Regions from separate parts of the Homo sapiens genome. Here region 2 is linked to region 1. Evidence: fine-mapped expression QTL. A gene starts in region 1. The other region holds a variant in brackets. All regions are shown on one strand. Distances are from middle to middle. Region 1 holds the start of MYO19 (myosin XIX). Region 2 overlaps ZNHIT3 (zinc finger HIT-type containing 3).

What was found. PIP is the estimated chance that this variant, and not a neighbour inherited with it, causes the effect.
Region 2: its variant is the best candidate, but not a certain one, in a credible set for the expression of MYO19 in whole blood (INTERVAL, PIP 0.71).

Annotation. Positions count from the first base shown.
Region 1 is chr17:36,526,273-36,542,849 of GRCh38, forward strand. It overlaps MYO19 (myosin XIX), which reads right to left and starts at 8,596. Exons shown (of 26, transcript NM_001163735.2): 1 at 8,489-8,596; 2 at 7,681-7,832; 3 at 6,255-6,409; 4 at 1,792-1,930; 5 at 1,279-1,427. The coding sequence starts at 6,266. It overlaps PIGW (phosphatidylinositol glycan anchor biosynthesis class W), which reads left to right and starts at 8,715. Exons shown (of 2, transcript NM_001346754.2): 1 at 8,715-9,320; 2 at 10,822-13,031. The coding sequence starts at 10,830. The coding sequence ends at 12,344. RefSeq lists an enhancer at 7,287-7,962.
Region 2 is chr17:36,492,592-36,506,276 of GRCh38, forward strand. ZNHIT3 (zinc finger HIT-type containing 3) reads left to right here. Exons shown (of 5, transcript NM_004773.4): 3 at 222-308; 4 at 1,335-1,415; 5 at 2,632-3,231. The coding sequence ends at 2,813. It overlaps MYO19 (myosin XIX), which reads right to left. Exons shown (of 26, transcript NM_001163735.2): 19 at 12,706-12,813; 20 at 11,359-11,429; 21 at 10,506-10,609; 22 at 8,478-8,644; 23 at 8,239-8,368; 24 at 6,484-6,569; 25 at 5,675-5,968; 26 at 3,045-3,815. The coding sequence ends at 3,660. Among named protein-coding and RNA genes, the nearest start is that of ZNHIT3, 13 kb to the left of the region's middle. The variant T/C (reference allele first, on the strand shown) is at 4,718.

The DNA of each region.
Region 1 (16,577 bases):
ATGCTCTGCAGATTCTCTCTGCCTGCTATGGTGCTTCAGACTCTTCACAAACAACCCTGGCTTTCTCGTCTTCCTGCTCTCATCTACTCCCTCTTGCCCCCAAGACCTCCCTCCTGCCAGCAAGTTTTCTCTCACCTCTCCCTGAATGCATCATGCACTTTTACACCAACAAGCTCATTATCTGTCTGTACCTCCACCACCCCACCCCAAATAACTTATCCTTTTCTCAGTAAAAGAATAAGTTACTTTCCTCAGCAGAGATAAACATATGCTGAATTTTCCAGGGCAATCCTTATCGTGTATAATTTCATTCTTTCCTAAAAAGGTAGTTTTGCTGGACTCAGTGGCTCATGCCTATAATCTCAGCACTTTGGGAGGCTACGGCAGGTGGATCACTTGAGGTCAGGAGTTCGAGACCAGCCTGGCCAACATGGTGAAACCCCATCTCTACTAAAAATACAAAAATTAGCCGGGCATGGTGGTGGGCACCTGTAGTCCCAGCTACTCGGGAGGCTGAGGCACAAGAATCACTTGAACCCTGGAGGCGGAGGTTGCGGTGAGTCAAGATCGCACTACTGCGCTCCAGCCTGGGTGACAGGGAGAGACTCAGTCTCAAAATAAATAGGGCCGGGTACAGTGGCTCACACCTGTAATTCCAGCGCTTTGGGAGGCCAAGGTGGGTAGATCACCTGATGTCAGGAGTTTGAGACCAGCCTGACCAATATGCCTACTAAAAATACAAAATTAGCCAGGTGTGGTGGCATATGCCTGTAATCCCAGCTACTCAGGAGGCTGAAGCAGGAGAATTGCTTGAACTCAGGAGGTGGAGGTTGCGCTGAGCCCAGATCATGCCATTGCACTCCAGTCTGGGCAATAAGACTGAAACTCCATCTCAAAATAAATAAATAAATAAATAAATAATAATAAAAAATAAAAAGGTAGTTTGTTAAATAAACAAATATATAATACCTTTATAAATCCTTTCCTGTTAATAAAACCGCAAACAAGAAAAAAAAATCCTTTCTCTTATGTCTCTTATTTTAGGTTCCAAACTCAGTTAAACAAATATTTATTTATTCCCCACTTTGCACCTTCTGTCCTGTAGTCAGTTCTTCATGGTTCAAAATTCTGCCAGCTCCTATTGGGCAGGCCGTGGCACTAGCAGACTCTGAATGACCACATTGCTGGTGAATAGATGAATAAGGACAGGGGTAACTGCAAAGAGGTTTAGCGGGAGGTAGAGGAGCCCTGAGGCCACAGGCAGCGGCAGAGCCTTACCTGGGGCTGAGGCGCAGCATGGTACTCTCTCATTAGCTCGGGCGAGTAGAGCTGAGGAACAGGCTTGAAGGGGTTCAAGGCTACCAGGGTGCAGCCAGCATTGGTGTAGAATGTGTCTGCCATGTACCGGGCCTGCAGGCACCTCAGGACTGAGGCAGAGATGCCTTTAGCAAACTCGGGCTCAAATATAGTCAAACCACACACACAGACACACATCTACTTAAGTAACAGCCCTCTTTCTGCAATTAGCCAAGAATCATTAAATCCCAGCAGCTCCCTGAAGAAAAGATACAAGATCTAATTAAGATGAGCTCCAAATCTGAAGCAAAGCATGCCCTGGGGAGCCCAGGTGCAGCTGTCATGCTCCCTCAGGCGGAGGTCTGGAGCAGCCCACCTGGCTCCAGATCAGGAGTCCTGCCGACCTCCGTCTGACCTGGAGAAGCTGTGCTGACTACTCTCATTACACCTCCAACCTCCTGGAGATGATACTCCTGAGGAATGGGAGGCCCATACCTGTCTCTAGTGTCACAGGATTCACCCTGGTGAGGTCATCCAGTTTGTACAGCAGGACCTCCCCACCCAGGAACTCCTGCAGGTCTTCTCTGAGGTACTCCCTGGCTTGGCCATCAGACCCCGGATTGTGGCCATTGACCTGGAAGAGATAACGTGAAGGTGAGGCCAGGCACAGTGGCTCATGCCTATAATCCCAGCACTCTGGGAGGCCAAGGCGGGCAGGACACAAAGTGAGGAGATCGAGACCATCCTGGTTAACACGGTGAAACCCCGTCTCTACTAAAAAAAATTCAAAAAATTAGCCAGGCATGGTGGCGGGCACCTGTAGTCCCAGCTACTCGGAAGGCTGAGGCAGGAGAATGGCGTGAACCCGGGAGGCGGAGCTTGCAGTGAGCCAACATTGTGCTACTGCACTCCAGCCTGGGCGACAGAGCAAGACTCTGTCTCAAAAAAAAAAAAAACCAAAAAACATGAAGGCCGCGACAGCTGGTACTCAAAACAGCTGGCAGCTACAGAAGGGTGGGAACCTGTATAGTAGAAGGAGACTCTGGTATCATAGTCTGGTTGGGTTCAAATTTCAGTTCTGCCTCTTAGTAGCCCTGTGAGCCTGGGTAAGTTACCCTCTTTGAGTCACAGTTTGTTTATTCGTAAATAAAGGAAAATAAACTCAACTGACAAGGTTATTGGGAAGAAAAGAAGAGATATACAAAGCATTTAGTCAGTGCCCGGCATACAGCATGTACTCAACAAATGCTATCTCTTCTGCCAAGAGCTCCGGCCACTTGCAAGTAGCACTTCCAGGCTACTAGCCTTATTAGAAATAAGGCTATAGGAATGTTGCAAAGGAAAAGAACCATGGGTTAGGCCTTTTTGGGAAGAGACAGTTCAGCTTTTGATGTAAAACAGCTGTACCTTCTGAGAGAGGTAGCCCCATGTCTTCATCACCTGCCTTTTGTGGCTTAAATTTAGGCTGGCTAATGAATTGGTTCCCTTGGCCCGAGTCTGCTTGAGAGAAAGCCTGGCTCAGACGGCTGTCTGAGGTCAAGAATAAGCACCAAGGGAACAGGTCCTTTCTCCTCCCTTGCCTATCTTTTTTTTTTCCTTTCTTTTTTAAGAGATGGAGTCTTGCTCTGCTACCCAGGCTGCAGTGCAGTGGCATGATCATATCTCACTGCAGCCTCCAACTCCTGAGCTCAAGTGATCCTTCTGCCTCAGCTTCCTGAGTAATTGGGACTAGAGGCATGAGTCACCCTATCTTCCTTTGCCCATTCTTGATGTATCATCCCTCCACTTCCTCCTGTGGTCCCATTTCTCCTACTGTCTCCTTTGGGGATGCAGGAAAGACAGAGTGGGGGTTGAAGACAGGTATCTTGCTGAAATGTGCTTTTGAAGGAAGAGGTCTGTGATACAACAGGTGAATTTCCAATGAGAATGGTGAGCCTAAAATTTCAAATCTCTCATAGAAATAAGCCATGGTGGCAAATTTCCTCCAAGAGGCCCAGTAATGCATTTCTTCCAAAACTGTTGCCTGTTCTCTGAACTTTGGGCCCACTATAATGCACAAGGTAGGCTCTTGGCCTCCAGAGTAACTGCGGAGGTCAGAGCACAGCTATATCTATGCATATCCCTCTCCTTTTATGAAGGGGAAAAAAAAACCACCACTACACAAACCATTCACAAACACAGACACAATTTATGAAGAGTTCTGATCCAACCAGAGAGGCATCTGAGTATAGTGATCAAGTACCTGGACTTGAAAGTTAGTTGTCTGGCTCTGAATCCTGACTCTATCTCTTACAGTTATATACTCTTATGTTAATTTCTTAATCTCTTTCTGCCTCAATTCTCCTCATCTGGTCCCTGTAATCCCAGCTACTTGGGAGGCTTAGGTAGAAGAACCACTTGGGCCTAAAAGTTCGAGGCTGCAATGAGTTATGATTGTACCGCTGCACTCTAGCCTGGCCAACAGAGCAAGACCTTGTCTCTAAAGTAAAAAATAAAAATAGAAAAATTTCCAGCTGGCCATAGTGGCTTAAGCCTGTAATCCCAGCACTTAGGGAGGCCAAGGTGACCCTGTCTCTATAAAAAATATTTAAAAATTAGCTGGGCATTATGGCATGTGCCTGTAACCCCAGCTATTCTAGAGGCTGAGGCAGGAGGGTTGCTTCAGCCCAGGAGGTCGAGGCTACAGTGAGCTATGGGGATATCACTGCACTGGGCAACAAAGTGAGACCCTGTCTCTAAATAATTATTTAAAGTTCTTTTCTGTAAAATGGGATAATGGTACCTACCTCACAGATACTCACAAGCACAAAAACACACGAAGGATTTAGAAAGGCCATCTGGAATCTGCCAAAAGGGGTTAGCTATTCTTCTTCTAAAAGTGGCTTTTTTTTTTTTTTTTTTTTTTTGAGACGGAGTTTCGCTCTGTCGCCCAGGCTGGAGTGCAGTGGCGCGATCTCGACTCACTGCAAGCTCCGCCTCCCGGGTTCACGCCATTCTCCTGCCTCAGCCTCCTGTGTAGCTGGGACTACAGGCACGCGTAAAAGTGGCTTTTGTATTTTTTTTTTTTTTTGACACAGAGTCTCGCTCTATCGCCCAGGCTGGAGTGCAGTGGCACAATCTCGGCTCACTGCAACCACTGTCTCCCAGGTTCAAGTGATTCTCATGCCTCAGCCACCCAAGTAACTGGGATCACAGGCATGCACCACCATACCTGGCTAGTTTTTGTATTTTTAGTAGAAATGGGGTTTTGCCATGTTGGCCAGACTGGTCTTGAACTCCTGGCCTCAGGTGATCTGCCCGCCTCGACCTCCCAAAGTATTGGGATTACAGGCATGAGCCACCGTGCCTGGCCTTATTTATTTATTTATTTAAGAGACAGGGTCTCACGGCTGGGTGCGGTGGCTCACCCCTGTAAAAGCACTTTGGGAGGCTGAGGCAGACGGATCACTTGAGGTCAGGAGTTTGAGACCAGCCTTGTCTACAGAGTGAGACTCCATCTCTAAAATAAAAATAAATAAACAAAAATTATTAAAAAAAATTTGGAGGCTGGGCGCGGTGGCTCACGCCTGTAGTCCCAGCACTTTGGGAGGCCGAGGTGGGTGGATCACGAGGTCAGGAGATCGAGACCATCCTGGCTAACACGGTGAAACCCCATCTCTACTAAAAAATACAAAAAATTAGCCAGGCGTGGTGGCCAGCACCAGTAGTCCCAACTACTCGGGAGGCTGAGGCAGGAGAATAGCATGAACCTGGGAGGCAGAGATTGCAGTGAGCCAAGATCAAGCCACTACACTCCAGCCTGGATGACAGGGTGAGACTCCATCTCAAAAAAAAAAAAAAAAAAAAAATTGGAAAATAGAGATAAGCAAAAGGAGCATAAAAATCCATAATCATACTACCCAGAAATAACCAATATTTTAGAGAATATCATAGGTTTTTTCCCCTACATACTTTAAAAACATTGAAAAGTATTATATTTTTGTGTAACTTGCTTTATTCCATTGTATTGATATACCTTTTTTTTAATAAGAGAAAAAAAAAGTTTAAAAATAAGCAAGAAAAAAGCCCAGAGCAGTCAACTGTTTTGCCCACTTCTTACCTTCAAACCTGTTCCAGGAGCCATATGGCTGGAAGGTCAAGCTGCAGTGTCTACTATGGCTCCCTTGATGCTGGCAGGCCCCACACCTGGCTGCTACCTTGCTGATGTCAGGCACTTACCTACCCAAGACTCCACTAGACTCTGAGCTCCTTGAGGGCAAGCACCAACCTCAACATCTGCCTCAGCCCAGTGCCTGGCAACACTTGGTAAAATAAAAAGTCAGCAAATAAGTACTGGCACTCTCTCAGGACCAAGAGTTACACATGAAGGATGATATGGGTATGAGAGAGAGCTCCGCTGTAAAAGGTGATTTGGAATCCTACAGGCCTGGGGCAACAGTAGCCTTTTCAGAGAGGCAGAGACATGGGGATCATGTAACCCATGATCCACTCATTAGAATCCTTCTATATTTCCTCATAGTCTCCTACATTTCTGCACAGGCTGACCTCTTTGCCTGGAGTGCTTATTTTCCTTCTCCAAGTGGCTAATTCTTTCTAGTTCTTTAAGGCTTAGCTTCAAGGAACACATCCTCTTGGAAGCCCCAGGCTTCTACTATGCCTCAACAATTCAGGTGGCAGGGACATCTCTCAGGACTTCCTCTGCAGAATCCCCAAAGTGCCCTAAGGATTCCCTTACCCATCCCACCTTACCTATCCCAAAGAAAGGAGCTAAAAACCACAAGACAGATTCAAATTAGGTATCAGGAAGAGTTTCTTGATGATGAGTAAAAGGCACTGGAGAGACAATTTGAGGAGAGAAAAGAGACCTTTAAGGGGGCTTTCCCTTCCTTCCAGGTTAGGGCTAGCAACAGATGCTGCAGGTGCTTGAGGGCCTGGGTTATCTAAGGTTGAGGTTTTACCTGCTGGAGCATCCTCCTTCAAAGTGGTCAGCCAGGGTTCTGGGTTGCAGGAGGTACAAGGAGTACTATCCACCTAGTCATGGGACCATGGGCTGGGGTATGGTTCCAACAAAGGGCTCAGTTCTGGAGGAATCTCAGACAAGTCACTCCAGCGCCTGTGGCATGAGAGAGAAGACAAGGACCACACACAGGTGAGGGCTTTTCTGGAGTGACTCACTCACTCCTTCCCACCTAGCAGAAGCAACCAAAATGAGATGCAAGGCAGGCCTGGGCGGAGAGTGGGCCTGTCCTTTCCCTTGCCAATTAGGAGACAGGGAAACTTTTATGAGAGCCTCAGAGGCTCCCTGGGCCAGTTTTATTACAGGGTTAGGGTTTGGGTTGGGGTGGGGCTGCAAACCCTCTGGGTCAGTGTGCCATGGAGGAGGAGTAAGACACTGGGGAGACAGAGAAGCCTTGTGCCCTATCCTCTACATTAGACAGAAATATCCTATTTCAGTCGTTGGTGAGGAGGAGAGGCTGGAGTCATCTCTCGCTGCTCCAGGAAAGGTGTGGTGTGGTAGTTTATATCACAGTTCAATCACTCACTGGGTGTGTGATCCTGGGTCAGGCACATCACCTACCTCAATTTCTTACCTTGAAAATGGGGACAGTTAAATCTGCCTCATAAGGAGTGGTTGTGAAGGTCAATGAGGTCATGGTTTGACAGCACCACACAAAGTACGAATCTGAGTATTCACTCAGAGGATAAACACTGTTAGCACTACGACTAAGGGTTGATGATCCATTTGGGAGCGCTAATCAGGTGAACGGTCCAGTGTCAACTTCAAGAAGGTGAGGATTTCAGGGAGATGAATCCATCTGGGAGGTGGGGTGTTGTGAGGCTGGGCCTAAGCCAATCTTTGAAGAATGGTTAAGTGACCCTCAGACTTGGAATTTTCTAGGCCTTGGCACCACCCCTAGCAAGGAGAGATGAGGCTGAGGGTGAAGCGTGCCTGCAATGGATTAACCCTGGTGGAGACTTTCTTGAGGCTCTGAATACATCAAGTCTTTAAAGAACCCAGGGATAGGGACTTCCATAGAAGCTGGAAAAAGGACAATTGAGGCGGAAACAGGTATCAGGACCGTGCTGGACCACTTAAGGTGTGGTGCTACAGCCCTAAAAGATCCTGACCCTGGACACTGACTGTACCCCATCCAAGGGACAGCCATGCAGAGGGCTCCAGAGAACAAAGCTCTTTCAACTGGGAACTCATCTCAAGCAATAGGTCCAGAGGGGCAGCACAACAGGTTTGGGGTTTGAATCCAAAACCCAAGGCCCCTGGCACAGAACCCAAGAACTAAGCCTCACTCTGTTTCCTCGTTTACAAAACGGAGTGATAATATCCAGATCTCACGGGGCTAAATGAAGCGTTAAAGGGGCTAATACCTGTGAAAGCGCTCTGCAAATGTTATTACGATGCAGCATCAGCTCCTAGCTGGAGTCAAGTGAGATTAGAGCAGTTTTCTCCAGTTCTCCCAGCTCCTGCTCCAGTCGGTTTCGCGGTTACCAGCCAAGAATTTCTGGAAAGGGTGTGAACACTGTGGGCAGAAAGGAGACGGTAATGAGTAAATGGAACACCGAATCAAGGCAAGTGGCAACCTGATCACCAGTCCCTCCTTCTCAGACTGTTTCTTTCTAGGCATGGAGGACAGTGGGAGGGCAGACGCTGAGAAGCGCTGGGTAAGGATCTCATCAGTCCAGCTGGCTCCGCCCCCAGGTTCCCGGCGGGAACCGGGGACTCAAGGTCCGGGCGTCGTGCCGCAAACCCAGGGCTGGGATGCCGTTCCGGAAGCACCTGGCACGGGGAGAGTATGTCCTTCCCAGGAAGGTGGACGTGACCCCAGCCAAGGGCGCAGCTGCCCTGACACCTCCCGGGACCAGCCGCCCCCTCCCGGGGTCCTCAGCTGGGCGAAGAGTGGAGCAAGGACCCTCTCCCCCCAGGCCGCCCCCTGCCGGCCAGGTGGAAAGGTGGAGGGTGATCAAGAAAGACTTGTTTCAAGCAAGAGCCAAGAGCTGGGCTACCCCCTCGTGAGACACAAGAGGGTCAAAAGGAAAAGGCAAAAAGGAGGGAAACGGCGCTTTGGAAGGGGAGGTGGAGACGCCTACTTCTTCCTCACCGCTGCGGGGCAAACTGGCCTCCCAAGCCCCTTCCGCGTCTGAAGGGCTTCAGATATAGGTTCGGGTTGACACTCACCGGTCCCACGGCCCGAGCCGCCGTGCTTCAGGCCCCCGCCCGGCCAGACTGGAAAGGCGGGCGGGCCAGGTCAGGCGGCGGGAAGAACACGGGCAGGAGAGAAAAGAGGAGGGGCAAGAGCGTGCAGTGAGGAAAGGAACCTGGGAGCGCCGAACCGCACCCCGTCGGCTGCGGCACTGCTAAGTGGCCGGGGGTCGGCCGGCTCCTCCCTAGGGGCGGGGCGAGCACTCGCGGCGCGGGGCGCGCACGTGGCTTGGCCGGGACGCCTGGTCCGGCTTGCTGGCTTCAACTACGGTGAGATGTTTTGCGACCCTGGGGTAAAATGAGGGTAAAGCGGCAGCTTCCCACGTTCTGGGGGAGAAGCGCGGAAGCACGGTTTCCTGGGCCTTCGGGCGACACCAGGACTGGGGGTCTTTCAGTAGAGGTCGCCGCGGCGGAGTCTTGTGCGAGTGCGGCGGAGTGTTGTGCGAGGCCGGCGGACACCATTACCCTGATAGGGCCTCGCCGTGAGGTCTGAGGGGCCGTGTGAGGTGCATGGCGCGCCGTTTCCTCTCCAGGCGCTCCTCTCAGGGCTACGGCCCTAGAAGATCTGGCCTGCACCAGCCCAAAGGACATGACAGGAGTGGGTAGCCCACGGGACACTGGCACGAGCGCCATGATGGGCGGAGACGCGCGGAATCGGCCGGCCCGGAAGTGCCAGCTGCCTGCGTCGGCCGGAAGTGCCGCGCGGGAGGCGGAAGCGGCTGGTTCCCGCGTGGTTTGGCGGGTGCAGCGGCAGTCCGGCTGCCCTTCCCACGTAGACCGTCTGCTGGGGGCGCCGGCACCATTTGGAGTACGTGAGGTATACGGGTAGGGCGCGGCCAGGTCGGGCGTCTGTTAGGAAAAAGACTTTTTATTTTTATGTTTATTTTTTAAGAGACGGAGTCTCGCTCTGTCGCCCAGGTAGGAGTGCAGTGGCGCGATCTCGGCTCACTGCTGCCTTCCACCTCTGGGCTCAAGCGATCCTCCCGCCTCAGCCTGGCATTACAGGCGCGCACCACCACGCTCAGCTAATTTTTAATTTTTCTTTTTTTTTTTTTCACTCCTGGCCTTAAGCGATCCTCTCTCCTCCCAAAGCGCTAGGATTGCAGGCATGAACCACTTCTCTCGGCTAGGACTTTTATTTTTAATGGTCAACTGATTTGAGTTGGTTACTGTGAGATATTGTCACAGGTTCCAGACAGGCCATAATGCACGCATGCATTCACTTACTTATTCAGCTCATGGTACATTTAGAAACTCTAGGTTCATGTTTAACCAACAAATGTGTTCTTCCAGTATGCCGTTTTTCAGACAATGATGTGTGGCATTCAGAGGTGTTTTACAACCCTTAATAAAAGAGCAACTAACACTAGTATGTGCTATACATCCATTCTTAATGCACCCACCGTACCTACTTCCATCCTAACCTGAAAACATAGCTGTCTGTAAATGAGGAAAGGAGCAGCCTGGGGATCCAGAAATCACTGCAGGGGTCACGTTTTGTACCAAGGCAGTAGGTTTGGAGAGGCTCTGAACTGGAACCAAGGCCCCCAACTTCAAAATGTACTTGGCCCCTAGCGTTTGAATTTGCTTTAAGGTCATTAGTAAATCCTATTCAATTTGCATCAAAGAATCTTCATGATACGTACTGTGCTCCATAATAGAAATTCCCATCTGCCTATGATGCCATTCTCAGAGTTTATATCCCAAATTCGCTCTCTTTTCCTTTGCTTTTTCTTTTCCTTTTTTTTTTTTTTTTTTTGAGATGGAGTCTCACTCTGTGGCCCAGGCTGGAGTGCAATGGCTCACTCCAACCTCTGCTTCCCCGGTTCAACCGATTCTCCTGCCTCAGCCTCTAAAGTAGCTGGGATTACAGGCGGGTGCCATCACGCCTGGCTAATTTTTGTATTTTTAGTAGAGACGGGCTTTCACCATGTTGACCAGGCTGGTCTCGAACTCCTGACCTCAGGTGATCCTCCCACCTCGGCCTCCCGAAGTGCTAGGATTACAGGTGTGAGCCACCACGCCTGGCCCCAAATTCACTTTCTTTGTGAGTCTGTCTTGTACAGGGAATAGCTGAAGCTTTGTAACCAATAATTTAATATTATTAGTATGACATTTCTATCTGAACACATTAGTGTTAAGCTTCTTCCCACAATCCTTGGAAGGGGAATCACAAATCCTAGGTGAACTCATTAGGGCCCAAAGTTCTGCTCTGAAATCTAGTAATAAGAGTAAAATTAAGCCAGGTATGCTAATTACACAAGAATGCTGCTTTTCACAAATCCATTCCTTTGCTCTTGTTTTCACAGGAAGAAAAATGTCTGAAAAGCAGATGAAGGAAGCTTTTGTCAGTAACCTCAATGGAACCACCGTGCTGGAAATCACCCAGGGATTGTGCTTTCCTGCATTCTGTATCCTGTGCAGAGGGTTCCTGATCATTTTCTCACAGTACTTGTGTTCTTTTTCACCTACCTGGAAAACTAGATTCCTCACTGACTTTGTTGTCCTAATAGTTCCCATGGTAGCCACTTTGACCATTTGGGCTTCATTTATCCTCCTTGAGCTTCTCGGTGTAATTATCTTTGGGGCAGGGCTGTTGTATCAAATATACCGAAGGAGGACCTGCTATGCCAGACTGCCTTTCCTAAAAATCCTTGAAAAATTCTTGAACATCAGTCTAGAATCAGAATACAATCCAGCCATCTCCTGTTTCCGTGTAATTACCAGTGCGTTTACTGCTATTGCTATTTTGGCTGTGGACTTCCCACTTTTTCCCAGAAGATTTGCCAAAACTGAGCTCTATGGGACAGGAGCAATGGATTTTGGAGTAGGTGGCTTTGTTTTTGGGTCTGCAATGGTTTGTCTAGAGGTCAGGAGGAGAAAATATATGGAAGGGTCCAAATTGCATTACTTTACAAACTCATTGTACTCTGTTTGGCCATTAGTCTTCCTAGGAATCGGACGATTAGCCATTATAAAATCAATAGGCTATCAGGAACATTTAACAGAGTATGGAGTTCACTGGAACTTTTTCTTTACCATAATAGTTGTGAAATTGATAACACCACTGCTGTTGATTATTTTTCCCCTAAATAAGTCCTGGATTATTGCCCTCGGCATTACTGTATTATACCAGCTAGCCCTTGACTTTACCTCACTGAAGAGGTTAATATTATATGGCACTGATGGTAGTGGCACACGGGTTGGTCTATTAAATGCCAACCGCGAAGGAATAATCTCTACCCTGGGGTATGTGGCAATACACATGGCTGGTGTGCAAACAGGGTTATATATGCATAAGAACCGATCACATATCAAAGACTTGATAAAAGTAGCCTGTTTTCTTTTACTGGCAGCTATTAGCCTCTTCATATCTCTTTACGTAGTTCAAGTAAATGTAGAAGCAGTATCTCGAAGAATGGCAAATTTAGCCTTTTGTATTTGGATAGTTGCTTCTAGCCTGATCCTTCTTAGTAGTTTATTACTGGGTGATATAATTTTGAGTTTTGCCAAATTTCTAATTAAAGGAGCTCTAGTACCATGTTCTTGGAAACTTATCCAGTCACCTGTTACAAATAAAAAGCATTCAGAATCTCTAGTCCCTGAAGCCGAAAGAATGGAACCCAGTCTTTGTTTAATCACAGCTCTAAACAGAAAACAGTTAATATTTTTCTTGCTGTCAAATATAACAACTGGCCTGATCAACCTGATGGTAGATACATTACACAGCAGTACCTTGTGGGCCTTATTTGTGGTCAATCTCTATATGTTTTCCAACTGTTTAATTGTATATGTACTATATTTGCAAGATAAGACTGTACAATTTTGGTGATCAGCAGGAGTAGGATATATAAGTATTTGGGCAATATTTAATGAGGAATATTAATTGTAAAGAAATTGTGCTTTTGGCAACAGTGTTAACCATATTTTATTATAAAATAGTTTCAGTCATCTAAACAGCAGTGATGCTTAATTATTTTTTTTTTTGAGACAGAGTCTTGCTCTGTTACCCAGGCTGGAGTGTAGTGGTGCCATCTCAGCTCACTGCAACCTCCACCTCCCGGGTTCAAGCAATTCTCCTGCCTCAGCCTCCTGAGTAGCTGGCACTGTAGGCATGTACCACCATGCCCAGCTAATTTTTATATTTTTAGTAGAGATGGGGTTTTGCCATATTGGCCAGGCTGGTCTCAAACTCCTGAACTCAAGTGATAACACCCACCTTGGCCTCCCAAAGTGCTGGGATTACAGGTGTGAGCCACCACACTGGGCCAATGCTTAATATTTTAATGTATCTCAACAATAAAACCAAGAAGAAACAAAGCCTTTTGACTTGTTAGAATGTATTAAGTAGTATTTTAAAGAAACTTTATAGTTGTGACATTGAAAGACTGTTGGGGTGGGGGGAGGAAAATTTTTACTTTCCATCTTAATGTAACCTTATGCTATTCTGTATTTTTACTGTATATTGCTTTTACAATAAATATAAAATGAAATGTTTATGTTGACATTTCAGTGTGAACTGTGGATTGTCAATACTTGTTTATTGCTCAATTTAAATTTTTGAATAAAACCTAGGACTAAGAAGCAAGTGTTTAAAATCAAACACTCCAATGTGCAGATGGGTGGATATAAAAAGAAAAATTTTAAAAATAAAATACTTATATACTATGAAGTCAGACAGTTAAATGCACCAAAGAATAGATGGAAGGCTGGGCATGGTGACTCACGCCTGTAATCCTAGCACTTTGGGAGGCTGAGGTGGGAGGATTGCTTGGGCCCAGGAGTTCAAGACCATCCTGGGAAACAGTGAGACCCTGTCTACAAAAAAAAAAATAGACTGAATTGGATGTTATATTATAGCTTATACACATAATAATTACGAGACAAAGTTTTGCTTTGGGATTAATTCATCTTTTAGCCTACCCTATGCTAGGGATTTAAGAAGCACAGCACAAATTTCCTGATACCTCAGAGCTTGCAATCTAGTGGAGGAAACAGACATTAAACATCTATTGTGAAATGCTAAGTTATGAAGAAAAAGCATAGGTTGTCAAGAGTGTCAAATCAAGAACTGACCTAGTAAGGAGTCAAGTTTTCCCCACAGATTTTTTTTTTTTTTTGAGCTAGAGCTGATTAGTGGGATGAGGAGTTATAAAGTCTTATGTGTCTGGGGGCTGGGGGGCAAATGGCAGAGAACATTATAGATGGATGACTCCCTCAGCAAAAGTCCTACGTTGGGAGGGCACCAAGCACATAATGGAATTGAAAGAAGGCTGAACACAGAAGAAGGAAGAGCATGGGCAGAGAGCTGGAGAGGCAGGCAGGGGCCACATCAGGCATCCTCACCTACCATGCTAAGGGAAAGGAGAACCAATAAGAAAGATGAGAGTCATCAAGTACCCAGTGTAATTTAATAAAACTATGGCTAAATTAAGGTTTAATTTAAATCTGTAAAAAATAGAGATGGGGTTGCCCAGGCTGGTCTCAAATTCCTGGCTTCACGTGATCCTCCCATCACAGCCTCCCAAAGTGCTGGGATTACAGGCGTCGTGATCCTGGCCTATAATGACGTTTAATATTCTACTGTCTTTTTTTTTTTTTTTTGAGATGGAGTCTTGCTCTGTCTCCCAGGCTGGAGTGCAGTGGCACAGTCTTGGTTCACTACAACCTCCGCCTCCCAGATTCAAGCAATTCTTCTGCCTCAGCCTCCCGAGGAGCTGGGATTACAGGCACACGCCACTTCGCCTGGCTAATTTTTGTATTTTTAGTAGAGATGAGGTTTTACCATGTTGGCCAGGCCAGTCTCGAACTCCTGTCCTCAAGTGATCCGCCCACCTTGGTCTCCCAAAGTGCTGGGATATAGGCATGAGCCACCGCACCCAACCAGGTGTGTTTATTTTTGACAGATAAAACAGAACTTCCCAGTGTCAGCTCATGAAAAAGAAAACCCAATCCACAGATCCTCAGGTTTAGGTCACTATGGTAATTTAAATAACATTCTGTGGCCATAGATTGTCTTACCACATAAAACTGTGGTTATTATAATGAAACAACAAAAAGTCTTCTAATCAACTATCATTTTCCTTGCAACTATCAATTTTTGAGGGCAGAGGAGAGGGAAAGATAACAAAGTGAGGAGTAAGAAGAACATAATCTGTCCAGGACCTCAGCCTATCTATGCCCTTCAGAAAGTGACTCCCATAATTTTAATTTTTTTTTTTTGAGGCGCAGTCTTGCTCTGTTACCCAGGCTAGAGTGCAGTGGCACGATCTCCTGCCTCTGCCTCCCGAGTAGCTGGGACTACAGGTGCCCGCCACCACACCCGGCTGATTTTTTGTATTTTTATTAGAGACGGGGTTTCACCGTTAGCCAAGATGGTCTGGATCTCCTGACCTCGTGATCCGCCTGCCTCGGCCTCCCAAAGTGCTGGGATTACAGGTGCGAGCCACCGCACCCGGCCAATTTTAATTTTACACAATTATAAACTGGGGATGTCTACTACACGTGCCCCAGTAGCTCTTGTGTGCCGAAGATGACAACCAGTTTTATTTTTATTGAGCATAAATGTCCAATGTATTTATATAAATCATACAAGAACCTTATGTTCCTCCCTAGGAGTTTAAATATAGTCTATGAAGCTAAGACATAATAAGGAATACCTTGGTACTTTTCATTTTTTTTAAACCTAGGTAGCCTGGAGAACAGATAGATCTCATTTATGCCTGCATTTTGTGGCTAGCGTCTCACACATTTGGACCTAAGAAAAAGAATGGTAGTTTGCTGATAATTTATTACAGCTCCGTCCCTCCAACTGTTCTTTATTAGGTACCAGCAAAATGTGTTCTGCTGTTGATTGCCTTTACTTTCCTGGCCTTTCAAATCCTTTGAACTTGCATTTCACAATGCCAATATCAAAATGAAATAATAGGCAACAGACAACTGTCTTTTAATGTAGCAATTATATATTTCGTCAATTAGAGGTTTGCTCTCTAAAAGCAGATACTTTTCATTTTAAAGTACATAGGATAATTCTCAAGAAGTATTTGCTGCAGTACTGGTGGTTATGGCTAAAAATAGAGCAATAGTGAAAATAAAAATAAGTGCCTACTCTAAAACCAGGAAGATGCACAGTGAAAACTTTGAAAAATTATTTTGCCATGAAATAATTTTCTAAGCGTTTTCCTTGGGATATTGATTTTATTGTATCGATTGTATTATATTGTATGGTATTAGATTAGATTAGATTGGATTGGATTTATAGCACCCAGGCTACCTCCTTGAGAAACAGCAACTTACCTAGCAAATCCACCTTTTTCGCCTTTAAGAATACGTTTTCATTGAATTCCTATTTGTCCAAAGATACTAAGTATGCCCGGTGGACCTAAGAGACAAACCCAAATTAGGGAAAGTAAGCTCAGATGGAAAGAGACCTTTGGGATTTCATTTTATTATGTTTTATATATGTTTTAATACCTTTTCACAGATTTAAATCCCCAGGGTGAATACTCCCTTCTTTGTTAGTACCTGGCGTGTGTTCAGTAGTCAAAGTAATTAAAATTAGCACCTATATAATGAGCTTGTCATTTTTAATGTTCTTTACCAACCAGAATCCTAATGAAGTCTAAAAGGTTTAGGCTGGGCACGTTGGCTCACGCCTGTAATCCCAGCACTTTGGGAGGCCGAGGCGGGCGGATCAAGAGGTCAGGAGATCAAGACCATCCTGGCTGACACGATGAAACCCCGTCTCTAATAAAAACACAAAAAATTAGCTGGGCGTGGTGGCAGGCGCCTGTAGTCCCAGCTACTCGGGAGGCTGAGGCAGGAGAATGGCATGAACCCGGGAGGCGGAGCTTGCAGTGAGCCGAGATAGCGCCACTGCACTCCAGCCTGGGCGACAGAGTGAGACTCCGTCTCAAAAAAAAAAAAAAGGTTTAAAGTGGGTACATTAATTGATGTACCACTGTAGGAGCACCTCTAGATACTGAAGGCCACAGTATCTTGGCTCACTGCAACTTCCGCCTTCCCGGTTCAAGCGATTCTTCTGCCTCAGCCTCCGGAGTAGCTG
Region 2 (13,685 bases), 35 kb before region 1:
GTTCTTGGGGTGCATGAATGAGTCCTGCTTTCTCAGCCTGCTGGCGGTTTTCCTTAATCTCTCTCTTGCTTTGATCTCTCACTTCTTCCACATTCCTGGGCACCCACCCACATCCCTTACCCCAGACACTTGCTTCCTACCTAGATGCTACCTTGGTAGGGAGGTGCAGCCTTGTCGCTGAAATGGAGGTAATGTGGGCCTGGGATTTGTGTCTTTTTCAGAACAGTGCAACCCTGAAACTCGTCCTGTTGAGAAAAAAATAAGATCAGCTCTTCCTACCAAAACCGTAAAGCCTGTGGAAAACAAAGGTGGGTTGGTTGACTTCAAACAAATCTACAAGGGACTTCACATAGAATAAGTCGAAGGAAAAGGGGAGAGTGGGGCTGGTCAGGGAATCCAGAACAATAGCTTCATTGGGAAGGAACAGCTTCCTTAGCCTTGAGCATCAGGAGTGGGGCCATGTCATCATGGGTGATATTGAGGCAACAGCCTGAAAGCAGTATTCAGGAGAAGAAAAATGGGCAGAAGACAGAGATGAGAAAGGCCATGGCTGTGGTTTGGGGGTTTGCGGTGGGCCCTGCTGGCAGGAGCCTTCTCTAGCCCATAGCTGCTGGTCTCCCTCCATGAATCTGGCTGGGACTGTCAGTTCACCTGAACTCAGCCCAGGCAGGAGGCTTTCTTTGTCCTAGATCATCTCGCTGCTGCTGGGGGTTCAGAGCTCACAGCAGTAGTGGGCTGTCAACCCATCCGTCCAGCCATCTAAACGTTCTTTAATACCTCCTGGGTGTCAAGCACCATGCCAGGCTCTGAAAGCAGCCCCTCTGGTGCCACCAAAGAGGTATTGAACATTCACTCCAAAGGCATGGCCCATTTTTGCCCTTTGAGAAATTTCCAGGTTGGGTTCAGGCAATGCCAGCAGTTTCTGCCCATGCTGAAAGCACAGGAGATTCTACTTGGCTGGTTTTTACAGAGCATCCAGTTAATTGGCCCATCACAGGGTTGGAGCCATGTTGAGGTGGGGATGGGTATTAAGTTATTAGACAACCGGGGTCTAAGCCTAAAGACCACAGGACCACATATACAGTAAGGATGTGAACACTAGAGTGCATTTGTTAAAATCACCAATTCTTTCACTTAGCCTCCCTCTTCTAAAAAAGGAGTGTTAGTATAGTCACAGACTCCGGAGAAGAGGATTTTTGTCTGTACCTGCTTGAATACCCCTATCACTATCACATGTGCGTGCACACATTTTTATCCTGTTCAAGTAGTGGTTAAAATCTGGTGCCCAGGCCTCCTTTTTAGCCATGAGCCATTGACTGTTTTGTATTCCTTAGATGATGATGACTCTATAGCTGATTTTCTCAATAGTGATGAGGAAGAAGACAGAGTTTCTTTGCAGAATTTAAAGAATTTAGGTAAGTCTGTGCTATGCTTGTCAATCGTTGAGATACATTTACTGTGTTGTAAGGATTGTGATTTTTTAAAAAGTTTTTAATTTCTTGAATAAGTATGGCATGTAGGGCTCTTACTATCTAGCCACATAATCTGTAAACATACAGGGTTTCACACCTCCCAGCCTGCCCACACCATTCCTTCTGCCTGGAATCCTGCTGGTCTTGTGGGTTGGCAAAATTCTGCTCCTCCTTCAAGCCTTGGTTCAAGTTTTCTTCACTCAGCTAAGCTTTTCTTGACCTTTTGTGTCTCTTTCAGAATTAGGCACTTTTTTGGTTTCCCATAGCAACTTGGACTTAATAGTAATAAATCACTGTTACATTTCATGGTAATTTGTCTCTCACATACCGATTTGTACAGCAGGGACCTGTATTCCCAGATCCCCAGTGCTCAGCTCACAGTCCAGCCCTTAACACAAACTGGTTATCACATGATTTGATTTAGGGGGAAACAGGTGTTGCCATTTTTGTAGCACTGCTTATTCAGTCCTTACAACATTCTGTTACATGTGCATGGGGTCTGTTAATTTCATTCTTCCCATTTCACAGAATCATGTTAAAAGGTTATGTTTTGCACTTAGTCTCATGGTAATGATTAGTTAGACTGAGTTTGGAGATGAGCTAGTAATAGGTGTGAAAAATTTTACAGACTGTGAAGTACCATGCAGGTATTATTGTTGGTTCCCTGCTACTGGTGCTGCTGCATGCCAAATGGCATGCTTAGACATCATTCAGATTATTTCGTATAGCCGTCTTCACCACTGGCAACTTTTATGGCTAGAAAGAAAGAAAACATGCCAGCAGCTTAATGCTACTATTTGCTTTGTGATTGTGCTGATAAAGCATTTTTTTCTTAGCTGAAGTGGCACGAAGTTACAATATTTACAAAGATACCAAGAACTGGTATCTGTTACTGCATTTAATGCGGAAATAGTTTGATATGCTGGTCTTACCTTTCATTTTATAGAGGTGGGGTCTCGCCATGTTGCACAGGCTGGTCTTGAACTCCTGAGCTCAAGCAATCTGCCCACCTTGACCTCCCCAGTTGCTGGTATTACAGGCATGAGCCACCACACCTTGCTGATAGTTTTATTACACTTGAAATAGCTCTTCACTTTTCAGCCATCTCCATGTGTTTCCACTTGAACTCAGACTGGCTTTTTTTCTTGTTAATTTTTAGGGGAATCTGCAACATTAAGAAGCTTATTGCTCAATCCACACCTCAGGCAGTTGATGGTCAACCTCGATCAGGGAGAAGACAAAGCAAAGCTCATGAGAGCTTACATGCAAGAGCCTTTGTTTGTGGAGTTTGCAGACTGCTGTTTAGGAATTGTGGAGCCATCCCAGAATGAGGAGTCTTAAGATGGATTATTGTGCTGCTTGCTCAAGCGTGTGCTTGACTCCTGGAACCTGCCTGCTCCCTCTCCCAGACCAGCTAGTTTGGGGCTGGGGAGCTCAGGCAAAAGAGGTTTCCAGGATGCAGATTAGGTCATGCAGGCCTTTACCGGCATTGATGTGGCTCATGTTTCAGGCAGACTTGGGGTCCTTAAGGTGGCAAGTCCTTTATGGAGAGAAAACTTGACATTCAGATGATTGTTTTTAAATGTTTTACTTTTGGTACAGTTGATAGACATCATAAACGATATCAAGCTTACACTTCATATGGAGTTAAACTTGGTCAGTGTTAATAAAATCAAAACGTGATTCTACTGTACATTGCATTATTCATAATTTAATTGTTTGAAATTACATTAAATAAATCAACTAATTAAATACTAAAGTTTTGTTCCTTTTTAAAGGAAATAACCACAAGATTTTTCCCAGCCCAAATTCCAGCGCCAATTTTAGGCCAACTTTGGCTGTTTTCTTCCAAAAGTGCTTATGTGGAATTGGGATCCCCAGTGTAGTGACAGACAGTCATGACTGCTGCTGAGTTTGATCTGTGAAGGTAGTGAAATGTGGCCCTGATGTTTCTTAACCCTGATTTGGTAACTACCAGCCCTGACACCATCAGTGCTTGATGTAGCCTGGAACCCCAGGCCCACTGACGCACTGGGCACGGGGCTCTGGGTCGAAGGCTGGAGCCGTCACTGTTGTTCATGTGCATTTGGAGCACTGTGGGAATAGTCTGGCAGCTGTGTGCTGATTAAATGTCTTTGGCAAGGCAGGGGGCAGGAAAAGGCCTTGTGGAAACAAAGGCACCAAGGATCACCCCAGCCCAGTGAAGGCAGAAGAGGTCACGTGGATCAGCCTGTGTCTTTCCAGCAGAATCTGATTAAAGCCTGTAATGCTGTAGGGTGAAGGTTCAGGGCAGATGTCAGCATACCGCAGTGGAGACTTTCTGCAGTGAAACTTTATCGATCCCTAGAGGGGAGAGAGAGATGCAGCTTTAGCACTAGTTCCTGGGAGTGCCAGGGCCTAACAACCCCACAGAGCAGACGCTAAAAATGCAAGAAGGTATGGACAAGTACTAGTATTGGGGGCCACAGCAGGATTAAAATAGCATTACATCCACTCAGTGTGAGACAGATGAGGAAACCCTAGGAGGAGGCGCTCCCTAAGAGGAATGTCTGTCACATTCCTATGACTGCTTAAAGCCAGAAGGGCAAAACATTTACCCTTCTGTTTAGCAGGCCTGTGTGTTTTCATGGGAGACTTCATCCAGATTAAGGCCTATAGTTATTCCTCTGAATGGAAATTTGGTGTTTCCTTCTGCCTTGTCATTTCACTTACTCCTTGCTGTGACTCCATGCAGTAGGTTGAGTATTAGCCCATTTTATAGACAGGCTCCGAGAAAATGTGTCTTAGCCAAGATCATCCAGTGAATGGGGCAGAACCAGGATCCAGACCCTGGGGTTCTACCTCCCAGTGCAACATACTTTCACCTTTCCTCGGCCACTTTAATTCTATGAGGCCTGGCTTACTGGGGTGACTCACAAAGCCCTGAGTGACAATGACTTCCTGAGTGTGCTGGCTGACTTTTCCCTGGATGCTTATATAAAAACAGCTGGGCACGGTGGCTCACACCTGTAATCCCAGCACTTTGGGAGGGCAAGGCAGGCAGACCACTTGAGGTCAGGAGTTTGAGACCAGCCTGGCCAATATGGCGAAACCCCGTCTCTATTAAAAATACAAAAAAAAAAATATAGCCAGGCATGGTGGCACATGCCCTGTAGTCCCAGCTATTCGGGAGGCTGAGGCAGGAGAATCGCTTAAACCCACTGCATTCCATCCTGGGCGACAGAGTGAGACTCCGTCTCAAAAAA[T/C]TAAATAACATGAAAAAAAAAAAAAACCCACAGAGAACTTGGACCACTGACCCTGCTTGTCATTTCGTCAGCCAGAAAAGGAAAAAACCAAGCAATACAATTTGGGGAAAACATGGTGCCAAATCCAGTGCCATTTGAGGTAACAAACTCCTCACAACCCAAGTTGTGATGTGGGACTAATTAGATTATTTGCTCTCAAGTCTTGGGTAGTTTCTTTTTTGCTATGTCTCGTGAATTTTTCCTCTTTTCTGTAATTGACCTATTATTACCCTAAACCAAACTTTTTTTTTTTTTTAGATGGACTCTCGTCCTGTCACCCAGGCTGGAGTGCAGCGGCGCAATCTCGGCTCACTGCAACCTCTCCCTCCCAGATTCAAGCAATTCTCATGCCTCAGCCTCCCGAGCAGCTGGGACTACAGGCGCCTGCCACTACGCCCAACCAATTTTTGTATTTTTAGTAGAGATGGGGTTTCGCCATGTTGGCCAGGCTGGTCTTGAACTCCTGACCTCAGGTGATACACCCGCCTCGACTTCCCAAAGTACTGGGATTATAGGCGTGAGCCACCGCTCCAGGCCCTAAGCTAAACTTTCATCACCTCCTGCTCCTGACTCATCTAAAGCCTTGGTTCTCACAGTGTGGTTCATGGAGCATCAGAATCAGCTGGGAGCTTGCTAGAAACGCAGCATTGCATTTGGAAATGGGACTAGAAGATTTAGAGATGCTGAAATAATTAGAAGCAGTTTTTAAAAAGATAAAGGGCTCTGGAAGATTCCCAGTTATAACAAAATAAATAATCCAAACCTGCAGCTGATTGGGACATGCAGCCCTCTGGTTTACCCAGTAGGGTTAGGGATGGATCTTGTCCCAGCCTCAGTCTCATTCCCGCTGTGAACTTGTAGGCTTTGCTCCTGCTGTTCTCAGGAACAAAGCTGTCATGGCCATCACACACAACGTACCTGAGGCAGCGCTCGGATGGACGTGACACCAGCCTGGTCTTGTGCTGTCTGGACAGTGTAGCTACTGGGGCTGCCCCTGGGGAGCTGGAGGCAAGCCCAGACCACTAATTTCCTCTGAAAGCTGCCTACACCCATAGCCGTATTGGCCAGGACCAGTCCCAGGGGCCAGAGGCGGATTATTGCCTCCAGGAGCCTGGTCTGCAGCGGCGAGGTGCTCAGGGAACAGGGAGCTTGAGAGAAGTGTTTTTCTTCCACACCATCCAGCTCTTTAGCAGCAAGGCAGGCCATTCTGATCTTAAAAAGCAAATATCCCTTTATAGCTTTAGATTTATCTAGCCCTCTTAGCAGAAAATGGAAATCAAAACTATCTTTAACAAATCATCTTAACAAGGTGAACTGAAGGCACCTGGTTGCAAACAGCTGGCTGCCCTGAACCAAACTGGTTCCATATGCCACAAGTCTATACACCCCAGGCAACTGTGCTTAGGCCTTACATATGCTACTTGAAAACAAGATAAGAGTCCATCAAGATATAACTGATATGCCATAAAACCCAGTCTTCTAAAGTGTACATCCCAGAGTTTGGTATATTCCCAGAGTTGCTTATACCACTCTTCACCTACATAACCACCCTGCAGGGTAGGTGTTACTGTGCCCACTGCATACATGAGGAATATGAGGCTCAGAGAGGCTAAACAACCTGCCCAAGGCCACCTGCATTGCAGTGGCAGAGCCAGCATTCCCACTCGGGTCCATCTGGTCCCCAAAATTGATCCACTGCCCACCCCGACTTCTTGGGTCTTACTTACTCTCCACTTCTGCCATGCACGCTTGATGACTGTGGCAGCTGCATGCAGCCTCTGGATGTGTTTCCGAGTTAACCAGGAACGAATGGCTAAGAGGTTTGCCCAGAAACAGGAAAGAGATAATAAAGGGGCCATTAGAGCTGTCAGTGACCTCGCTGCAGCAGCACCACAGTTGCTGTCAAAGTTTCAAATACGTTTTTTTTTTTTCAATAAATTGCTACAAATAAGGTTCTAAAATCAATACATAAGGCAAAATTGGCTTTTAAACATTCCTTACACTGCCCACACACTTGAATACACCTACACAACACAGTGAAGGGGCACTGGGGAGAAGGACTGGCTGAGGGCCCAGCAATCACTTCCCGTCTCAGGCTGGGTCCAGGTCAGCACCCAGGGAATGGGAGGGGTCTGGATTGTCTGTGCCTTTAAAAACTTTTTTTTTTGTTTTGTTTTTAATCCTCAGTTGAATTTGTTCGCTTTATGCATCCCTGATCTCACATCACCATATACCCAAACACTGATACAATTAATAGATGGTGGTAATTTTTATTCCCTTCTCTGCAATTTCAGCATATTCTTTTTCTTTTTGTTTCTTTTTTTTTTTTTTTTTTTTTTTTTTTTTGAGACAGGGTCTTGCCCAGGCTGGAGTGCAGTGGCACGAACAGCTTATTGTAGCCTCCGTAAGGCTGTAGCTTCAATCTCCCAGGCTCAAGCAATCCTCTTGCCTCAGCCTCTGGAGTAACTGGGACTACAGGCATGTGCCACCAGGCACGGTTAATTATGTTTTGTTGTTTTTTTTTTTTTTGAGACAGAGTCTTGCTCTGTCACCCAGGCTGGAGTGTAATGGTGCAATCTCAGCTCACTGCAACCTCTGCCTCCTGGGTTGAGGTGATTCTCCTGCCTCAGCCTCCTGAGTAGCTAGGATTATAGGTGCATACTACCACACTTGGCTAATTTTTGTATTTTTAGTAGAGAAAGGGTTTTGCCATGTTGCCCGGCTGGTATGAAATTCCTGGGCTCAAGTGATCCTCCCACCTCAGCCTCCCAAAATGCTGGGATTACAGGAGCGAACTACTGTGCCCAGCTTCCTTATACAATTTTTTAATGCCTACACACACACAAACACACCTTAAAAGGAGGGCATCGCCCTTAATATGTAGTTTGACATCTAGGTATGAATATCATTTTGGAAGTGGTTCTCCATTAAATTTATAATATTCTTCAAAAACACTTAGCTGCATCATAGGGATGGTCCAGTCCATCATTTGGCCATGATGTCACCACTGTTAGATATTTGGGTTCTTTCCAACACTTTTCCTTTTCAAAATAAGACCACTATGAACATGTTGGTTAATACATCTTTTCATCTGATGAACTCCTTTTGGTTTTTACCTTCTCCTTAAATTCATTCCAGCCCTAGAGCCCAGCAGGTAATGGTTTGAGTTGTCATAAAGGGAAAAAAAGTTGGCCTAAACAGCTGTCAGGGTCTGAGAAAGGAATTAAAGACAACGCTTAGACAACGCTTAGCCTCCACTTCTTACAGAGCACCTTTGTTTGTGGAGTGACTTGGTTTCCATTGAACTGGAGAGACGTTATGAGTGAGGGGGACAGGGAATTTGAATCCCAGCACACCACAGGGACATCTCTTCAGGCTGGGACACAGCTTCAGGAGATGGGGACTCGACGAGCTATGTTTCAAAGGAAACCAACATCCTGTGGGGTCTGTGAGCAGTGCTGACAGGTGACCTGCCCACCTACCTGCCTGGATGAGCATGACGGCCCGCCACTGCCGCTCCTGCTCTCGGTGCCGGTGTCGCCTCCAGCCACCCTGGATGCAGCGGGCACACTGCTCCAGCACCCGGGCACGCCCACATTCCAGAAGCTCCAGCTGGGAGAAAAGGCATCCATTGAGGGCAGCCTCTTCTCCCCCTGCCCCCTCCTGCTGAGGAGAGCACACAGCTTGCCTCTGTAACCTCCTCATCCCCAAACCAGCTCACCATAGAGTCAGTCATGAACACCTTGGTCCTGCCACAGTGCATGGGGGCTGGCATGGCCTCAGCCGAGTCACCAGTTATGGCTGCTGCCTGAGTTAGGACCGGCAGAGTGTGGAGAATGTCCTGGATGAGAGGTTCAAGCGTGGCTTCCTCGCTGTGTGGACACCATTCTGGGGGAGGGAGATGGCCCCATCAGTGCATGGTCATCTCTACATGCCTCTGTGGCCTGAAGAAACTGGCTTTGGCCTCCCTAGCACTCTACAGGTCTCTTTCCTGCTGTTCTTGGCTCTAGCCATTTTCTCCTTGTTCTTCTTTTGGAGGAAGCCACAAACAGCCTCTCTGTTGTCCCTCAGGGTGCTAGCTGTTCCGTGGAGCCTTGGAATACCCACTTGCGCCTGTGTGTCCTGGGGTGTCCCACAGCCTCTACTGCCATGAGTCCCTTTGGGCAGGCTGGCAGAGGGTGCTTGACACCTGGAAGGGTGACTCCTTCCAAGCTTGGAATCCCAGGCTGCTCAGCCAGCATTTGTTTCCAAGGCCCAAACACACATCCTGAGGGCCAAATAGGGCAGCTATAGGCCACTCCCTCAGCCCCGACCCCTCAACTCCCCACCATGTATGGGAAAAGGGAGATCCAATCCCAGCCCTTAGTTTGGGAATCTTCTACTGCAAATAAAAAGAATAAATTAAAAAATAAATTTAAAAAATCCCAGCCCTGCAAAGGTCCCGTGTCCCACTGCCTGCCCTCCCGCAGCTCGCAGAGCTGACTCCTGGAGAGGTAGGATTTACCTGAGGGCTCTGACCACCTTAGATGCCCAGTGCCTCTCTGAAGACAGAGGCTGCCAAAGGAGACACCACAGATGAGAAACAGCAGCAAAATCAACCAGGGGCCAGAAGGGCTATGGGCAAGAGACACGGAACAGGACAGCAAACCATGGAGAGGGAGAAGAAAGGAGAAAGGGTGAAAGGAAAGTGAAAACTGCCCAGGAGGGGAGGAAACAAAGCAGGATTGCCCCAATGGCTGTGAGGGGCCCAGGGTAAGGCTGGGTGGGAGGGGCAGAGGTGCTGGGCTGGGGTCCTGCCGAGGCGGGGCCCCCCGGCAGCCTGTCCTTGGCCTGTTCTCCCTCTGCCTGTGTCTGGGCCCTGTGGCTCCCACAGCCTCTCTTTTATCTGCATGCCGACAACCCCCATATGAGGGCCTCCAGATCCTTCCTTTGAGACTAAAGCCTGCCTAAGTGCCTTGCAGACTTCTTCACTGGACCTGCAGGACAAGTCACCCATGCCCGGGCTCTTCAGCCTCCCTGAACCTCTTTTCCTCTTGCTTTTCCTCACTTCCCAGGCTAAGTTAATTTACTCCTTTCCTCTCCCTCTACATCTAGTCAAGCCCCTACCAAGACTGACCAGTTTCTTCCAACAAATATTTCCCGACTGTGCCCACAATTCTTGTTTCTCTCTATTGGGGCAACTTTGCAGCCTCAATCCCACAGCCCTCCATGGTGCCCCCAGAGTGGTCTCCAGAAAGTGTGAGGCTGATAAGAGTCATTTGCTCCTTCCCCTGCAGTGCCTGCTCATCTGCCCAGAGAATAAAGTCCAGATTCCTTGATGGAGCCCTACCTGCCACTCCAGCCTCACCTGCCCCAGTTCTCTGCCTCAATGAACCAGCAACACAGAACTGGCTGGAGTTCCTCATACCCACACTGCTGCCTCAAGCCTCTAGGCCTTTGTTCAGATTACATTTATCATGTGGACCACCCATCACCTGGCTAATCCAATTTATTCTCAGATACTACCTCTTCCAGGAAGCCTTCCCCAATTCACACCTCCCTAGCACCACCCACAGCATCCTGCTCATAGCTCTGCTTTTCCACTTTCCATGCTATTTGTCTTTTTTGAATCTGTTTCCCCCACTGAACCAAAACCAGGGCTGTGTTTTATTCACCAGTAAGCCCCAGCCCCTAGCCCTAAGACAGGGCACAGGGTAGATGCTCAGTAAACTGTGGTTGCACAAATGACTAACTCATGGGTCCCACTCACCAGGGAGCCCTTTGGCAGGATATGGGCTGTCGGGGCCAGAGGATGTGCAAGGATGAAGCCTTCTTAGTAACTTGTATCGTTCTACAAAGTTTCGGTGAGAGACCCTGGAGGCCAAAGCAGGCAGAAGTAGAGAATTACTTCATCTGTGAGCCAGGTTAACGGTTCAGGGCTCATCAGAAGTTATTCTATTTAATCTGCTCAACAACACAGCACGGTGCTGCCCTCCCCGAGTATCCCCACTGAATGTGAATGTGGTTTTGAAGCGATTTCTAGGATCACTTAGTTGGAAACCCATAAAGACTATTTAAAATGGGTCTGCTCTCCCTGCTGCCTTGGTCTACCAACACAAAGCATCTCTTGTGTTAGCAGGGGATTTGCGGGCTGCCTCCCTCCAAAGGGGCTGACAGGCCTCTCCCCAAACAATTGGACCAGTCCTATGACGCAGACATGCTTGGCCACATCTCCCCTCTGACCTCTCTGACCCCACAGTCTCCTCTGCCTCCCCCAGATCTCCCTGCTCCTCATCAAGGCAACACTTCTCAGACAGCTGCTGGCACCTGATATCTGCACTTCCTCCCAATTGCTTGTCAGCCCTCCTGAGTCTGGCTTCTGTCCCCAACATTGTACCAGTGTGGCTTTTGTCACAGCCATCAGCTGGGTACAAAATAGTGCACAATAAGTGAATGGATGAACGAATGGGTGCTGCTCCCTAGTTCCCAGCTGACTTCTACAGACCAGCCTCTTTCTCTTCATTTCCACATCTCACTCTGGGTTGGGCAGGCTCTTGCCCAATGAGAGTCCTGAGCCCCACTCTGTACTGGCCCTGCACTGTGCCGTGATCGAGCCCACTCACCGGATGGGGAAGCCAGCAGCACTGATATGGATGGTCTCCACGAGGCCACAGGCCTCCAGCTGGCTCAGGACCTGCAAGGGTGGGGAGACAGGGCAGGCACCTGCAGCATGGGGCCAGCAGGCCAGAAATGCCATTCTCTCAGCCCTTCTTCTTAGACCCTGGCCAGTGCCAAGCTGCAGGCTCTCCCAAGGCTTGGCTAATGGGGGTATCTCCTTGGGGCTGTGAGAAATCGAGGGACCTTGAAAACAAATCTCCCACTAGAAAGGGTCCTGGTGGTCCCAAGTCCCCCTCATCCGACGCATGGCTTCTGATACAGCTGAAGCAAGTGATGTCCTGGCTCCGTCTCACCCTGCCCTCAGTGTAGTCTCACTACCACACAACCCAGCCCAGGCAAATTTCCAGTTTGGATTGTTTTCACTGTCTGCAGGCATTAGAGGGTGGTTCACAGCTGAGAGGCAGGGAAGATTATACTATGAAGATTCTTCTGTGACCTGAACCCAGGTCTTTACCACAGAGCTGAGTTGTCCTGGCTACAAACCGGAAGGCCACATCTACCAGGCCACACCTTCAGCAGTGCCCAGCATTCACCCCTCATCCACATCCCTCAGAACCTGGAATCCCAAGAAAAGGGCAGCTGCTGGCTAGAGTGCTTTTGTTAGATTAGAAAAAAATGATACCGGCTGAGTGCAGTGGCTGCTCATGCCTGTAATCCCAGCACTTTGGGAGGCTGAGGTGGGCAGATCACCTGAGGTCAGGAGTTTGAGACCAGCCTGGCTAACATGGTGAAACTCCATCTCTACTAAAAATACAAAAATTAGCCAGGTGTGGTGGTGCATACCTGTAATTCCAGCTATTTGGGAGACTGAGGCAGGAGAATCACTTGAACTCGGGAGGCGGAAGTTGCAGTGAGCTGAGATTGCACCACTGCACTCCAGCCTGGGTGACAGAGTGAGGCTCAGTCTCAAAAAAAAAAAAAAAAAAGAAAAAAATGATACCTCCAGTGAGAAATGGCTGCACTGTGCGGGGACTGTGTGGTGATGTAGACTTTCAGCTAATCACGAGACACCCATTCCTCTGGGCAGTTTCAGTCTCTCATCAGGGTACATGGCTCAAAAAAACAAGATGCACTGGAACTTGCCTCCCTGGCTAGGCTACTATGCACAGACCACACAACCATACATGCCTGCCCTGCCACAGCAAGGGAGATGGGTCCTCTCTCATGTCAGGCCTGGCCGGAGAGACCACTTCTGTGCACTCCATTTGGAACAGATGTCCTGCCCTTCATCTCTCCAGGGCCTTGGCCAGATGGGGTTTGGTGCGAAGCAGCTTTGGCCCGGTGTTAATTACCTCCTCTTGGAGAAAGGTCTGCGCCTGGCCCTGGCTGTTGGGCTTGATGCAGCGAATGTAGTGGGGCGTGGTGCTGTGTAGGACCTGCAGAAGCTGCTCCAGTGAGGCCTGCAGATGAGAGACCATGGGGTTAGGCAGGGAGAGGGGCTGCCCAGGGCCATCAACTGGGCTCTGGTTAGTAACTACATCAAATGCCTCCAGCGGGCCCTTCCATGATCCTGAGACCAAGAATCTCCTGTGCAGGGATGACTGCTGCAGGCTCTCAACGAGCAGGCTCAGAGCACATTCCTCTCCCAACTTCCCATGCTCCTCACCTCTGTCTTAAGGGACCCTTCTAAACCTGTGATCCTCCCTGACTGTTCTCCCTGAATCCAATCTCCTCCTCTTTCCCCTCCCCACTTCTCCCCAGAGCAATCTTCTTAGAAAAGAACAATCTCAAAACTTCTTGCCATTCGTCCAGCAACAACTGTTATCACTCAGCTCATCCTGTGTGTTGGAGGCTGTGCCACAGGCTGCCTGCTGCCATGTCAGAGCTCACTCCAATGGGCCACACATGTTGGATGAACACCCTCGGGGGTGTGTTTGAGGCTGGGTAGGAAGGTGCTAATCAAACCTGGTTTTCCAGGTGCCTCCTCGAGGTGGTGGTGATAAAGCTAAAGTCTGAAGGATGAGAAGGACTAAACTAGGAAAAGGGGCGTGGAGGATGGGAGTGAGGTGGAGCTGATGGGGCAGTAGTCAAGAGTATCCCAGGAAGGTGGGGCGGTACATGCAAGGACTGAGAGGTGGTAGAAAGCAGACGATGTGAGAGAAGTGAGTGAGGGTAGGGTTAGAACAGGAAGCTAGACAGCTGGAGATGAGCCAGGTCAAAGAAGCTCATGTAGCTGATCCTCTTCCCATGAGCACCCCAGTGGCAGGGGGTGAGAGGCTGCATAGTGCCCCCATAGGCCCCTAGACTTCCCATCATATTATACCTGATAGCC